2 separate regions of the Homo sapiens genome follow, and region 2 is linked to region 1. The links come from fine-mapping of genetic effects on gene expression. Tissue or cell type: breast. Region 1 holds a variant in brackets; the other region holds the start of a gene. All regions are shown on one strand. Distances are from middle to middle.

Evidence for each region. PIP is the estimated chance that this variant, and not a neighbour inherited with it, causes the effect.
Region 2: TJP2 starts here. The variant in region 1 is fine-mapped to the expression of TJP2 in breast (GTEx, PIP 0.94).

What each region holds. Positions count from the first base shown.
Region 1 is chr9:69,235,206-69,243,313 of GRCh38, reverse strand. It overlaps TJP2 (tight junction protein 2), which reads right to left. Exons shown (of 23, transcript NM_004817.4): 13 at 7,076-7,286; 14 at 6,178-6,365; 15 at 5,341-5,436; 16 at 4,525-4,604; 17 at 3,167-3,377. Among named protein-coding and RNA genes, the nearest start is that of TJP2, 65 kb to the right of the region's middle. RefSeq lists enhancers at 533-1,033, 1,034-1,534. The variant C/T (reference allele first, on the strand shown) is at 3,108.
Region 2 is chr9:69,171,085-69,179,192 of GRCh38, reverse strand. It overlaps TJP2 (tight junction protein 2), which reads right to left and starts at 4,916. Exons shown (of 23, transcript NM_004817.4): 1 at 4,761-4,916. The coding sequence starts at 4,820. It overlaps LOC124902175 (a long non-coding RNA gene), which reads left to right and starts at 7,596. Exons shown (of 2, transcript XR_007061566.1): 1 at 7,596-8,108. RefSeq lists an enhancer at 3,818-4,007 and a silencer at 4,898-5,327.

The DNA.
Region 1 (8,108 bases):
GGAAAACAAAAGGATATTGAGCCTAAAGAGACTAATGCAACATAAAGCTTGACTTCAAATTACTGTGTTCATCAAAGCACTCTATTATTCTCAACTACTAACTCACAAAAATGCCATACACTTAAAATCATTTTAAAAGCCTACAAAATAGGCCAGGCACGGTGGCTCATGCCTGTAATCCCAGCATTTTAGGAGGCCAACACGGGCAGATTGCTTGAGCCCAGGGGTTTGAGACCAGCTTGGGCAACATGGGTAAACCCTGTTGCCAGAAAAAATACAAAAATTACCCAGGCATGGTGGTGTGTGCCTGTAGTCCCAGCTACTGGGGAGGCTGAGGAGGGAAGGTGCCTTGAGCCCAGGAAGCAGAGGTTGCAGTGAACCGAGATCGTGCCACTGCACTCTAGCTTGGGCGACAGAGGGAGACTATGTCTCAAAAACAAACAAAAACTATAAAATACTAATTCTGCCTGAAGATTCTACTGCTCAAATGTAAAGACTAGTGTTTCTGGACATGGCACACAGCCTCAAGTCAAAACCTGGTCAAGCTAAGAGGGACGAGGGTGAGATGGGGAATAAAAGCAATTATTAGTGCAGTCATCCACACAGCTGTAGGGAGTCAAACTTTGAAGTCTGGAAGAGTACTGTAAAAGACCACTTGCTAGAAAATTGGAGCTTGCTGGTCAAAGTTGCTGCACACCCTGCACCATCTATCCTGAAGACTGTACAATTCTACATAAGAGATTGGCAATTTCTGGTGAGATAAGATCACTTCAATGTTTTAGATGAAACTCAATGCTTACAGTGTGTGCTTCCATTCCAATCTCTGACTTGAGTTATTCTAAAACTTTCAACTTCCTGATGAGTTTAGGCAAGAAATGGCTTGGTGTGCCAGGGGCAGTTCTAATGTAAGTTACAAACATTTATGCCTTGCCCATGTGCTAGTCCTGATGCTGGCCTCAGGCACACAACGCTGGGAAATGTTCAGGCTCTGCCTTCAAGGATCTTGAAATCCATCTATGGAGCTAACAGAGGTGTTGCTAACCCCTTCTACACACATGGACCCCTCTAGATTCTTACTCACACTCAGCCAGCTACCGTGGCCTGTGCTCCCAAGAGCAAATGATGCGGACTCAGGTTAGATCAAGGGAGAGCCCCACAGTCACTGGCTGCCTTCTTCTGCCCTGCTCTCCTCGTCCAGCCGCCTTCAGCCTAGTTCTTCCTCTACAATGCACTGTAATTCCCTTCCCGATTTCCTACATCCTCACGTGAATCCCAAATTTAACTCTCTGAGGGAAGACGCTCGCTATTTAGTGTACTCAGACAAAAGCAGGGGGGAAAATAAAGTGGGGATAGTTTTAACTTCATTTATAATCACTTTGGCTTCAGTTTTTTAATCTGTCAAAAGGAAGGGCTGCATTACGTGACCCCTTTTGGGATTAGAATATGTCTGTGCTGTAACATATGTACAATATTGGACAGTTAGGGACGCTATAGTTTAGTCTGGGCTCAGTCATACATCAGAATTGTGATTATGCAAAAGTGCTGGCCTTTCTTATGGCCTAATAAGACAGCACACATGGAAGGCTGTACCACTCTTTACTGTTGCTATAATAGTAATAATCATAATAATTATAATACTAGTAGTAAAAAGGACAGAAAGGATATTCATAAATATACCAAGAGTATGAGTACGTAAGACTACATTCACAGAAATCTAGTTTATGATGGACCACTTCCTCCTCTGCATTTGGTTAAACTCTCTCCATTTGGCCACAGTGGCAAGTAGTGCACCTCTCTTTAACAAGAAAAACCAAGTTACACTAAAACAAGCATCTAATGTGAACACAATCATTCACCCCTTCCTCTCCAGTATCAGAGATACACTAAAATGACATGGGTGGATGATGATGGGCAATGAACTCAATGAGCTATCCTCATCCTAAGGATATCATATCCTTGCAGTCTCCTCGTGTTGCCCCAACAAAATAATGCCCTGCATGACCACAAAATTTATGTAACCCTTTAAAACTCTTAATAATCTCATATGCACAGAATTAATCATTTATATAGACAGTGCATATATTGTTACTAAAATATGTCATGTTCTTAGACCATTTTACTTTCATGAGTAATAGCAATGGCTCTTCATTTCATGGACTTAAAAATATATTCTATTAGGTAAATCTTTAAATATGTACAAAAGTACAGATAGCAGTTTAATGAACTCCGATGTACATATCAACCAGTTCAACAACTAACAACTACCAAGTCTTGGCCAGTCTTGTCCTGTCTATAATCCCATCTACTCCCCTCACTGCAGACTATTTAGGCAAATTCTCAACATTATATTAGGTCAACCATAAATATTTTATTTAGTATGCATTCCTCAAAGAACTTTGTTTTTAAAAAAATCACAATATTATTATCACACCTAACAAAGAGAAATAATAAATCTTTAAATCATCCAATATTCAGAGTGTCCAAGTTTCTAGATTTTTTTTTTTTTCTTTGAAGAGACAGGGTCTCACTCAGTCACCAGGCAGGAGTGCAGCAGTGCCATCACAGCTCACTGCAGCTTTGAATTCCTGGCTCAAGCGATCCTCCAACCTCAGCCATAGGCATGCACCACCATGCTAGGCCTTTTAGTAGAGACAGGATCTCACCATGTTGCTCAGGCTGGTCTCCAACCCCTGGGCTCAAGTGATCCTCCTGCCTTGGCCTCCCAAAGTGGGAGGATTACAAGTGTTATCCACCATGCTGGACAGGAATATTTTTAAATAATGAAACCAAGTTCCTTTCGCTTTGTAAGTTAATGCATGTATTGATGGTGAGTAGAGAACAATGACACAATCTCTAGAGAGACATAGGTGTTTGGCCTGGCTCAATCACTAGCCTTATAGTCTCACAGGAAAATATGAACTTCATCAAAATAGCTAATTATTACCACATCATGGATCTTTATGGTCATTTTCAAATAGACAAAATTACAAAGTTCAATATATAAATGCCATTGGCCTAATATCCCATTTTATAGGATTAACTATTTTTCAAGGAGTCATGAACACAATTTCAAATTCTCCATTCAGATTAATTAATTATTTCTTCTA[C/T]TCTTCAATTCTTTATTTCTCATTTTTTAGCAAAGGGACTACATTTACATTTCACTTACCTGTAAAAAGGTGTGCACACGTTTTTTTAAGCTTGTTGGCTTGATCAAATAACTTTCGAGAACTTTTGTTGGACGTTGGATTTAACCTTTGTCTCATGGTTTTGACACCTTGTCTGGAGTCTGGGTTGAAAAAAATCACAATTGGGAACCACTGGGTGTAATTCAACAGGTCCACAGCTTTCGGAGTCACATCCAGTAGTGCATGCTTATCCTGTTTACAAAAGGGGAAAAGTTAGAGAAATGGATATATAAAGTAATATAGCATCAAATACTTTGTTTTAATAAGTAAAGGCTGTATGAGATATATCTTGTTTGTTTGTTTGTTTACTTATTTGGGATAGATTCTTGCTCTGTTGCCCAGGCTGGAGTGCAGTGGCACAAACTTGGCTCACTGCGACCTCCGCCTCCCGGGTTCAAGCAATTATCCTGTCTCAGCCTCCTGAGTAGCTGGGATTACAGGTGCCCGCCACCACCATGGCCAGCTAATTTTTGTATTTTTAGTAGAGACAGGGTTTCACCATGTTGGCCAGGCTGGTCCCAAACTCCTGACTTCAGGTGATCCGCCCGCCTCTGCCTCCCAAAGTGCTGGGATTACAGGCATGAGCCACCTATCTTGTAAATTTAAATCAAGAAGCAGAACACATTTCCTTCTACCTAATGCCCACTTCAATATTACCAATGTGTTAGAACTTCTGATAAAATGAATTAACACATTATTTGGTATAATGCTGGGAACTCTGGAAAAAAAAACAGTATGTTACTGCCAGAGAACAGTAACAGTGACTGGTTTCCACACAGTGAAATGGTTTGCATTTACATTATATATATATTTTTTTGAGATGGAGTTTCACTCTTGTCGCCCAGGCTGGAGTGCAATGGTGCAATCTCCGCTCACTGCCAACAGTGACTGGTTTCCACACAGTGAAACGGTTTGCATTTACATTATATATATATTTTTTTGAGATGGAGTTTCACTCGTCGCCCAGGCTGGAGTGCAATGGTGCAATCTCCGCTCACTGCAAACTCCGCCTCCTGAGTTCAAGCGATTCTCCTGCCTCAGCCTCCTGAGTGGCTGGGACTACAGGTACCTGCCACTGTGCCCGGCTAATTTTTTATATTTTTAGTAGAGACAGGGTTTCACCATGTTGGCCAGGCTGGTCTCGAACTCCTGACCTCAGGTGATCCACCCGCCTCAGCCTCTCAAAGTGTTGGGATTACAGGTGTAAGCCACTGTGCCCGGCCAATTTTTTATTATTAACATTTAATGATTAAAAGTACAGATACTATCCTAAAAGTGACTGCAGCAAACCATAATCTAATTCTTTCTGAAAACACGGTCTGTGGATGAATTTTCTCACCTGTTCAATAATTTGCCTCACGGTATTTAACCGGACCACTCCAGTGGATTTCTCAGATCCTGCATCTTTTGGTTCCGTTTCTGCAAAAGCAAAAACAGGAAGCTAAATAATTGTTTAGAAAACAGTGACAACCAAATACTCCCACCTAGCATCAAGCAATGATGGCACACCTGACATTAAGTGTCTCCTAACAAGATTCAGTGGGAAGGACCCACATAACCTGCTTAGTGGAAATCTAATCATGAAGAAACGGTTAGGCCAGTCCAACAGGAAGCATTCTAGGAGACAACTAGCTTGGATTCTTCAAAATATCAGTGTAACAAAGTTATTTAGAAAAAAGAGGGGACTGGAAAGACATAAAAATCACAAAAAGACATAAAAATCAAATGTCATGAATGGTCCTTGGTTGTATTCTGAATTTAAAAAAAAGCTATGAAGCACATAACTAGGACAATTAAGAAAACGTGGAAAATGGACTATATACAAAATCACACCACATCAATGTTACCTTTCTTGGCTGTGATAATGGTATTGCAGTTATGTGGGAGAAAGTCCTTGTTCTTAGGAGATTCACACAAGTATTCAGGGATAAAGTGTTATAAATGATTCTGCAGAAATTTTTCAAAGAGTATGTGTATGTGTGTGTGTATGTGTGTCTATGGTGCAGGCAGTGGGTGAGAGAAAATGCGTGACAAAATGTCAGCAACTGGTGATTCCAGGTGAAGGGTACGTGGGTGTTCATGATTCTTCCAACTCCTCTGTTAGAAATTTTTCAAAATAAAAATTTGGGGGAAAAAAAAACACTGACAGACTTACTAGCAGTTTGAAACCAGTCAGGTAACTCATTAGCCAATTTTTCCATTGCTATATCAGCTATGGGGCCGAATAAGACCACAGGTCTCTTGAAACCAGCTGAAATGACAAGAAAGGCCATTAAAGCATACACACTTGCCTAGCTGTTATGATAAGCAGTAAAAGTATTGTATGGGCTTTTGATAACATAACTAAACGAAAGAAACTGTGGTTTCTCCCCAATTCAGCTTGGCTCTGTTCTGAAGAATATGCCTTCACTATCCTCACCATTTAAAACAATTTTTTTCTTTTCATTCAACCACATGCTAACCTAGATTTTTTTTTAAGAGACAAGATCTCACTATGTTGCCCAGACTAAACTCAAACTCCTAGGCTCAAGCCTCCTGAGTAGCTGGGACTACACTGCCTAGCTCCTCACCATTTTTAAACACAAACTTTCCCATTGATAATATATGGAAACTTTTTTTATTTTTTGCAGAGATGAGGTCTTACTATATTGCCCAGGCTAGTCTTGAACTTCTGAGCTCAAGTGATCCTCCCACCTTGGCCTCCCAAAGTGCTACGATTATAGGCATAAGGTACAGTGCCCAGCCAATATACCGAAACTCTTGAACAGTGGTATTAAAACATTTTTTAAGTTGCAGAAATAAGCCTCAATTTAGGAACTGAAACAGCTTTTTATAAATCATGCTCCTTGTTAGAATTTGATTTCAACTCTATAAACTGCCTTTGGCATAACTGACATACATAAGTTAGAACTTGACCATACAGTCTGAAAATAAAGGTGAACAGGCTCAGAGCCCAGTCAGTTCATTTCCAGGCCCCATGTGACTTCCTCACCTTCTCGCAGCAAAACCCTCTCATAAGCTGGGAACTTGGTGCTGACAGACACAACAGCTGTGAGGTCTTCCCGACTTTTCCTCAGGTTCTTCTTCACCCCAGACCTCTGGCCACGCATTCTCCAGAAATCTGCCCGGTCCCCAGCGTTGTCTCTCTGGGCATTTTGAACACTGGCCATTTGTTCAGCTCTGAGAAGAAACCACGGGAAGTAAATCTCTAAAGCCAGAAAACGCAGCTAACATGCATTTCATTAATCAAATCCAGTCAATTTTACTTCTGAGCTCAGAGAAGATTCCGCTTGACAATGAAGAAGTTTCAGAGGGTGGGAAATGTGGGGACCTTCACTTCCAAATGGGAGCAGAAAAAGGCTGGGTCTCTGTGAAATCTCCCAGAAGTGGCTCAGCAATAAACATGTGAAATTTGGCCCATTCTGATATGCAGGTACACAGTACACACACCTGGAACTCCTGCTCAAATACAGGCCTCTTTTCTAGGTTCCTGCACTGTCAGCCAAACACCAAGTGTTCACTGGGGTGCATAAACCTCTCCAAGGATGGAGACTGGGCACCGGACAAGGGTACCTTGTCTCTAAGAGGTGTGCTGGTGTGCTACGGCCATTCAGTATATCTCTTGTATACGGTACAAGGCAGTGGATGCTCCTTAGGAAGTTGTTCAAACAGCCACATTCAGCAACCAACCACATGATGCTAAATTTACTCACAATAAACTGGCTGGTGGCTATTTACAGTTCAGGCCACTCTCCATAAACAAGAAATAGATGGTGACAAGTAATGAACTCATCATGTGGGGTTTCCTTTTACGGGGGAAGGGGGGCGGTCTCTAGTTTTCTGCAGGGGGAAGGATTAAAAGGGGTATGTGAGAATGCGATCTCTGTTACCTGCTCTTGTTGGGGATTAAGCCTTTCTCCAACTCGTTCCCAATCCTCACAGCCAGCCAGTTGCCCAGCTTGCCGTCATACAGTGTGTCTACCACTCGGAAGACCTCCCCTCTGGTGAAGGCCAGGCTCTGTGGAGTTTCCTTCTCACATTCAAAGTGGCTTCTTATAAAAAACGAATCCCCTCTGCCACAAGCCAGGATGTCTCTATACACTGAAAGACAAAAGCATCGTTTGTTGCATTCAGCTTAGTACAAGTTACAGTACTAGACACTCAACACAGCTTCTCCTATCTCTGATCTCCCCTTTACCTTCCTTCCATTCAGTGCACAAGTCCTATGGGAGTCACAGCTCCAACAGGAACAAGGACAAATAACCAGCTTCACGGCTTGCTGCAATGGTTAATTTTATTTCAACTTGACTGGGCCATGAAATAACCAGGTATTTGGTCAGACTTTATTCTATGCCTTTCTCTGAGGGTGTTTTTGAATGACAGTCACGTATAAATGGGTAGACTGAGCAAAGAAGATCGCCCTCCCCAATGCGAGTGGGCCTCATCCAATCAGTTGAGGGCCTGAAGAGAATGACAATCAGACCCCTTCTCAATTAAGAGGAAACTAGGCTGGGCGTGGTGGCTCATGCCTATAATCCCAGCACTTTGGGAGGCCAAGGTGGGTGGATCACAAGGTCAGGAGATCGAGACCATCCTGGCTAACACAGTGAAACCCCGTCTCTACTAAAAATACAAAAAATTAGCCGGGCGTGGTGGTGGGCGCCTGTAGTCCCAGCTACTCGGGAGGCTGAGGCAGGAGAATGGGGTGAACCTGGGAGGCAGAGCTTGCAGTGAGCCAAGATTGCTCCACTGCACTCCAGCCTCAGCGACAAAGCCAGACTCCGTCTCAAAAAAATAATAATAAATAAATAAATAAATAAATAAATAAATAAAAAATTAGGAGGAAACTACTCTTCCTGCCTGATGGCCTTCAAAAGGCGACATCAGCTCTTTTCCCTGACTTGGTACTGGAACTACACCATT
Region 2 (8,108 bases), 64 kb after region 1:
AGGATTTCTCATAAATGGTGTGAACACACACATCACTAGAGAGTCTACTGAAACAGTATTTTCTCTTCTCCTTGATTCATTCGCCTGCCATGAGCATGCATCTCTCTAGGTCAAAGCAGGGATACTTGTTTTCTACCTCAAGGCTTCCTGTTCCTACGAAAATCCTTGTTAAAGCCTATTTTACAGACCAATACAAGCTTCATATTAAAAAAAAAATAAGAAAAAAAAACTCATCCAGTTGGCATTCTTCTGAAAGACTTTGAGAAATTAAATGCATTTACAGGTGAGGCTGTTTGGCTGTCCACATTCTTCGGCAATGAATCATGAGCAAGAGTCACTTGATAATACAGTGATGTCCTTCATCAGTGTCAAAATACTTCCTCCCCTATCACTCTATCATATCAAAAATATCATACCAACAGACCTTTAAAAACTGCAGAATGGCTTGTGGAAGCAGAGAAAGGAATGAGAATTGGGCCAGACGTTAAAACAAACAGCTAGCTCTACAAATACACTGTCTGCAACCACATCTAAGAGATCTGAGTGGATAAGAGCAGGATGCACACGCTTAAGACAGAAAGTCCATCAAATTCAACTTTCCTGGCTATTCTGGGCCATTCTGTGTTTGACTTTCTTGAAGGCGTGGTCAAGGTATACCAGGCTCTCTATAAGTAAGCACCACACTCATATTTTAAGCAGTATTATGCACACCTCAGATGTCAAGGGCTAGCTTTACCATTTTTGCCTTAGCCTCATATTACTCATTCCCAGAGTTGATAATTTTTCTTAAAGCAAACTCACTGCTTTACTTAATATTTATTTTTGCCTCATTCTAAGCAATCTAGCCATGAAATAAATGGATGTGGTAGCTGGTTTTCTGTTTTTATTCCTAACATATAATATTCATGCATCATAATTGAAAAATAGAATATGTATCTCTCTGCACCACCTGTAAGTCTGTCTGTATACCAGACTTTGGAAAGCACTGTTTTGGGATAGCATAAAAGGTAGAGAAAATGCTTTATTAAATGATTAGGTATTTTGGGGGTATGATAGTCCTTACTCTGTCTCCTCTGAGAGCTCACAGGTTATCTAGGATGATGAAGCTTTGGTTGTTTAATGGCCAGCTGGATGATAGAGACACCAATCCCTTTAAAAAACAGAATGGAGCCGTCACTGTTATGGGTAGCCATTGCCCCAGCTTGTGCAGGTCTTCTGGGGCTCTAGCTGTCAGTCACCCAGTTCTAAGAAGTGCTTTTCCTAATCAAATGGAAAAAGTGGAAGCAGACACTCTCCAACTCGGAACTCTGCCTCTCACACTACAATGTATGCAGCATACTAGCTCAACTGCTTTCCTAGGTACCATCCAAAATTAAAACTAGTGGCCGGGCACGGTGGCTCACTTCTGTAATCCCAGCTACTTTGAAGGCTGAAGCAAGAGAACCGCTTGAACCCGGGAGGCAGAGGTTGCAGTGAGCCAAGACCGCACCACCACACTTCAGCCTGGGCAACAGAGCAAGACTCCATCTCCAAAAAAAAAACCAAAAAAACAAAAATAAAATTAAAACTAGCTACTGCAATACTGCATATTGGATTTCCATGCCTGAATTTTTTTTTCCATTGCTATCACACAGCCTTTTCAAAAAGTTTAATAGTAATACCACCTTAGACCCTCCCAAATTCACTTTCTATATGGGCATCTACTAAAAAGGCTGATTGCAAAAATTCCTATGAGGGAGAAACAGGCCCTAAATAGCTTTTTAAACCTTAACAAAGTTCACATAACCATTGATGTGTTTAACCCACTAAATGGGTGTTAAATCTAACCTCTGAGTCTGTGTTTCTGACCCTAACCCTTGGATTTAGGATCAAGACAAAAACTCAGTAAAACACCAGAGAAAACTGTTCTGCTTCCCTCCACTCCCATCTGGGGCAATCTCACCCTCAGACACTACCATATACCAAATCACCTTCTCTGGAAAATCAAGGCTGGTTGGTCCAACAACTGTTGGGCCCCTGATTACTGCTTAGAGTCAAATCAATGAGGCATGTTATTGGGAATCAGCTCTCAACCTAGATAAATTCATCTGTAGCCACAACTGCTTAATGGGATTCGTTCTAGAGATGAGGCAAGGAATTCCCTGGTGGCTCATATTGTTGGTAGAATATGTTGAAAGTTTCAGCAGTGATTGCGAACCCTTCTACCGCTTCACCCCGCCCCCACCACACCCAAACTTCATGCCTCTCCCCAACCAAGTCTGCATGACTTTTTAAATTACTATTTATATTACTACACATATTATTGTACACAGGACTAAAGTGGCCCCGCCTAGTTTCAATAACTTGTGTCTCGTAAAAAGATAACCTTCTTAAGGAGAGAAAACCTTGCTAAACTCAAAATCTCCCTTGCCTTCAGCAGTATGCAGAAAGTTCTCACACTTGTCCTGAAGAGAAATGGTTGGCTGTGAACTTTTGTCAGTGTACAAAGAACTAGATCAAAAGTTAAATGTAGGCAGAAGTCATTGCAAATGCAATTCCCCCGGGGGTGATGTAAAAATTCATTGGTCTTAAGCCTATGAATGCCTCAAAAATAGTTATGGGGTGGGATGTTTACTGGGAAACTGGTTCGCTTCTTTTGTAGGGAAAGTCAAGTCATTTAATACATGAGGGATTTCTGACTTCCCCCCACCCAAAGCTTCGTTATGGCCTTCAAGGCCTTTTAACAGAGTGTGAACAACAACTCTTTCAGTTTTTTCCTGGACACCTACCTGGCACCTCCTACTTGTATCTTTAGATCTCACCTCCCTTATCAACCCAGGACCCAACACTTAAGAGTTTTCAGCACCCGTTTTGTTCCTATTACTAGCTACCACCATTTACGTAGCATCCACCACATGCCTTGTACTCTCTGTCATTTCATTCAGACCTCACTCAGCCCGGTGAGGTGGGCGCATTACTGGCCCCATTTTCTATAGTGGCTTGCTCGGGTGAGGTAACTGTTCAAATGCCCTTTATTCCCAGCAAGAATCCCCTGAAGGGAATGCATATAGGACCAATCCCACTCTTTGCTAAATTTCTGTATTGCAGAGTGTGCATCGGCATCATACATTCCCTCCCTCAGTCTCAGGAATCCCGACACAGATTGCAGAGTAAAGTCTAACAGTTTCAGGTCCACTAGACCCCTAAATGCAGAAATTGAATCTTGTTCATCTTTGTATCCCCCACAGTGACTGGCAGGAGTAGGGGCTCATTCAGTATTATAATATCTGGATGGTACTGAAAAAGTTACAGCAGCATTTCAGAGGGGAAAGTTCCCCTTCATCAATCTGCATAAGTAGCTCTGAAAAGAAATAAAGTGGCCCCACTGCAGAAGTAGTTCTGAAAAAAACACAAGAAACACCTCAAAAGCCACCGGTGCTTTAGTAAAGCACCTCCGCTTCTGCCATCTCCCCACAATGAGGAAGCTCCAGTACCCTGTCCACATTTCTAAATGGCACTCATCGGATTCTTAATGAGTTGCAGGCTTTCCCAACGGGACTGTGTGACAGAGCCACGCTCTTGCTCATCTGCGTAATCCCCACACTGAAGTGGAGTTGTTCATGAAAACTTACTAAATAATCAAATTTCATCCTCTCAAGCAGGATATGCAGTGGTACTTTGCTACAAATACATTTACCACTACGAATTTCTCACTTCAAGCGATCTCCTGCCCAGGTGTGTGCTCTCAGAAAATTACATCTCTTTCTGAATTACGCTGGCAAAGGTGGACCTGTTTTCCCAAAAGGACCGTCAGCACACCCAGCACAGACCACCTGGGGAGCTGAAGAAAACGACCTCCCTCCCTCCTCCCCGCTGGGATTCCCCGGGCTGAGAGCGTGAGTGAGAAGCGCAAGGCAGTTTCTATCATGGGATGACTCTCCGCTGGGAACTTCAGGGAAACCACAACCATCATTACTCAGGCCAGACAGCTGCCAGAAAAGCAGCCTAGCCTAAGAACTGAAGCTGAAATAGAGGTGGGAGGCTGTATTCCATTACTAAGCGCGGGAGCACTCACTCCCAAGTTTGTCCACATTTCAAGAATGTTAAAACCCTGTGGTAGAAATCCCTGATTATTTATAACTTAAACTACCGTGTAAAAGCAGAAACTTGACAAATGAAGACATAAAAAGAACTGGTGACAGGTAGGCTAGTACTAGAATACAAAGCATTCATCACACTCCTCTTTTGTGGGTCCTTCCAAACCTCCATCCCCATTCCCTACTGGAAAAAAAAAAAAAAAAAAACAACTTTTACTTCTATTACAGACGCAGCTGATTGAAAGGGAAAAGGGATTCTGCTCTGTGATGAGTTTTCAGTTTCTCTCACGTACACAAGCCTGTAACTTTGCATCAATACCGAGTGTGGTTTGAAATAGAGAAGGAAAACACAAAGACATGCAAGCGACACAACAGACACGAGATGCCTCCAAGCCAGCAGAAATCCAGGACACCGGGTTCAAGACAGTGTCCCCTACTCGCGCCTTAATCTCCAGCCCAAGTGACTTCAGAGTAAAGGTTCCAGGAGCCCCGGAGGCCACGAGTCATCAGCCCGGACGGTGAAACCTACCCCTCCCCTGCGTCCCACGTCCGGATGGGAGAATCCCAGCTTCCTACGGCGCATCGGGGAACAACTTCAGAGCAGCACGCGAGCAGAGCCCCCAGCGCTCCCACGCTCACGCTCACGACCCTCCTCCCAACCGCGCGGCACAAGGAGGCACTTACGCGGAGCCAACCTGACAGCTCCCGCCGGGGTGGAAACCCGCGGTCTCCTCGCACCGGCATTTCGGACACAGGTCCCGCGTAGGCGCGCAGCTCCGGACCCCGCTTCTGCTTCTGCTCCTGCTCCTACTCCTCCTGGGCACCACCGGACAGTGCTCTGACCCGCAGCCCAACCGCCGGGGTGCCGACCCGCGGGGACCCACCCCTTTGTCCCTCCTCCCGCGGCGGCGGCGGCGTCAGCCCGCCCCCGACCCGAGCGTGGCGCCTCCGCGCTGGCCGCCCGGCCCGGGAAACTGTCAAATTGGCCGCTACCACCCACGCGCCTGCCGGGGAAGGGCTCGCCGGCGCCGCGCCTTCGAGGCTCCTGCGGCGAACCGCGTCACGCGCGACTCCTGGCCGGGGGCGGGAGGCGGCGGCGGCGGCAGGAGAAGCCCAAGGCCCGAGCGGCCCGCAGCCCCCACGCCTGCACCCCTCCACCCCCGCCAGCCCGATGGTTCGCTCCGCGGCGTGCACTGGAGCAAGCAGGTCCCGCTCCGAGCGCGCGCGCTCTGGGAAGTGCTGCAAGTTTGGAGACCTGGAGTGAGCTCCGGGCGCTGCTGGCCCGACTGTCCGCGGTGTTTCCCCGGTGAGGTCGCGGGGGCATCCTGTAGGAAGACTTTTTGGCGAGGTTCGCAGGGCCTCACACAGGCAGCTTCAGTTCTCCTACGAAGAGTCGAACTGGGAAAACCTCAAAGTTTTAGGTCCTGTCTAGAGGCCTGCCCGGCTAACCAACACATACACGGCCTTGTACCCCACATTTCTCAGCCCAACAACTGCCTACCCGAATTCCGAGGGTTATAAGATGTTCGTATTAAATATTAAAACAGGACTTTTCAGGACAATATATTCCAGGTTATCTCTTTGGCACATTTCCAACAACTCCAATAAAGAGATTGAAACTCCTCTCCCATCATCAGCTTATAAAAGGTTGCCAGTAGGTCACAAGTGCTTATCTGACAGGATTCATCTAATGCAATTCAGTGTGCTTATTCCTTTCGAAGTCCTCCATGTGCAAAGAATTGTGCAGTGACGTTAAGTGTCTTTATTTTAAGAGCATATAAATTAATTTGGAGAATCCAAACAGGTACCGATTAAAAATATAACCTTGGGTTTGAAATCTTAAAAAACCATCTTGTAAGAGAATAGTTTTGCCTGCCCTGCTCTTCCCTTAATTGGAAAGCAAAACTCGTCCTAGGCTCACAAGTAGAAGGTAAAAGGTGTGGTCTGTCCCAGAGGAGATGCAGATGCTGGGCTCTCTCCCTGAAAAGTTGCTTCACTTCCTGCCTGATCAAAACAAGTCTAGAAGTTTCGTGGAAAAACAAGTCCAGTAGATGCCTCTCCAGAAGTGTTATGCTTCTGGACTCCTTTGGAGTAACTAAGTCCACGCCTCTGGATAAAAAGCACTGTGAGTAACGTTTCCCACTTTGCCTCGAGTCTCCGGACTTAGACATTTTGGTTGTATTCCTGATGTAAGGCATTGCTCTCCTGATCTAAGCACCTATTTATAAAATGTTTCCCAAATCTGGCCAGGCACGGTGGCTCATGCCTGTAATCCCAGCACTTTGGGAAGGCAAGGCAGGAGAATCACTTGAGCCCACGAGTTTGAGACCAGTCTGGGCAACATAGTGAGACCCCATCTCTATTTTTTAAAAATTGTTTTAATCAAAAAAAAGGAAAAAAAAATAAAATATTTCCCAAATTAGGTGGTGCTGACTAATAAAAATGATAGCACTTGAAAGGTGGCCACACCTTAATGATGTGGGCTTAGAGCCACTAACATTTAAAAAATAATCCAGAATGTGGCAGTTACATCTACTGACTGATTTCCTTTTTTCTCTCTAGAGCGGCACTGTTCAATAAGATGACCACTTGCCACCAGTAAGTGTTTACATTTACATGTAAATTAACTAAAATTAGAGGAAATGACAAATTCAGTTCTTCAGTCACACTTGTCTCATTTCAAGGGCTCAGAAGCCACATGTGGCTAATAGCTACCCTATTGGACAGTGCAAATATAGAATATTTCCATCAATGCAGAAAGTTCTGTTGGACTGCACTACTCGAAATGATGAAATATTTATAGACAAACTCCATTCTTCTGGCACAACACCTGACAGATGATAAGCATTCAGTAAATGGTTGTTAGAAACACGGTTCAGTTGATATATTAGCTTTTTTGCTGGTGGCAGTGTAAATCAATACAACTCTTTGGAGAAACAATTTATTAGTCATCTTCTTCACGTGTGGGTTTGCACATTTTGACCCCACTCCTAGAATGTGTTTATCCAAAGAACTTCTACTCCGCAGGGCGCGGTGGCTCATGCCTGTAATCCCAGCACTTTGGGAGGTCGAGGCGGACAGATCGCGAGGTCAAGAAATCAAGACCATCCTGGCCAACATGGTGAGACCCCGTCTCTACTAAAAATAACAAAAATTAGCTGGGCGTGGTGGCGCACGCCTGTAGTCCCAGCTGTTCAGGAGGCTGAGGCAGGAGAATCGCTTGAACCCAAGAGGCGGAGGTTACAGTGAGACGAGATTGCACCACTGCACTCCAGCCTGGTGACAGAGCGAGATTCCGTCTCAAAAAAAAAAAAAAAAAAAAAAAAATTCTTCTACTCAACAGGTACTTACTGAACACCTCTGTCAACCCCTTGATAAAATACTCAGGATCCTGCCTTAGGAAACTCAGTCTATTGCAGTAGACAATCAACAAGTAATGATAAACTGTGTAAGCACTGAGATTCCTGGCAGGCTCAGAGTGGTCTAGCAGGAGAGACTTAGGGAAGGCTTTCCAGAGATGGGGTTGCTTATACATTCTAAAGGAGAGGTCGGAATGAGTTTTTAAGACACAAAGAAGGAAAAAAGCCTTCCAGGTAAGGGGAATAAATAACACAGAGAGAAGTAAGGAAGGAAGAGACAGCAGGCTTACTCTTGAGGTGCCAGAAGGTGAAGTTGCCCAGGCAAGTATAAAGATGGATTTGACAGTTGGTGGGGGACAGGGGTTGGTGGGGGAGGAGAATGTTAGTAAGAATGACAAGACCGGCCAAAAATGCATTTTTGTGGGAATGCAGGTGAGAGATGACGTGGCTATGAAGTTAGGCAGTGTTAGACAAAAGGGAGCCAGATTCTAGAGAAACTAAGGAAGTAGATCAGCAGGCTGGATGACTGCCTGACTAGATATGGGGAGACGCGAGCGGGAAGTGAGCCTACGCTGACTCTCAGGTTTCTGGCTTACTTAAAGGAGATGACGGTGGCTTTTATCAAAACAGAACACAGGAGTGGGAGCAGATCTTGGGAGGAGCTTGAAGAAAG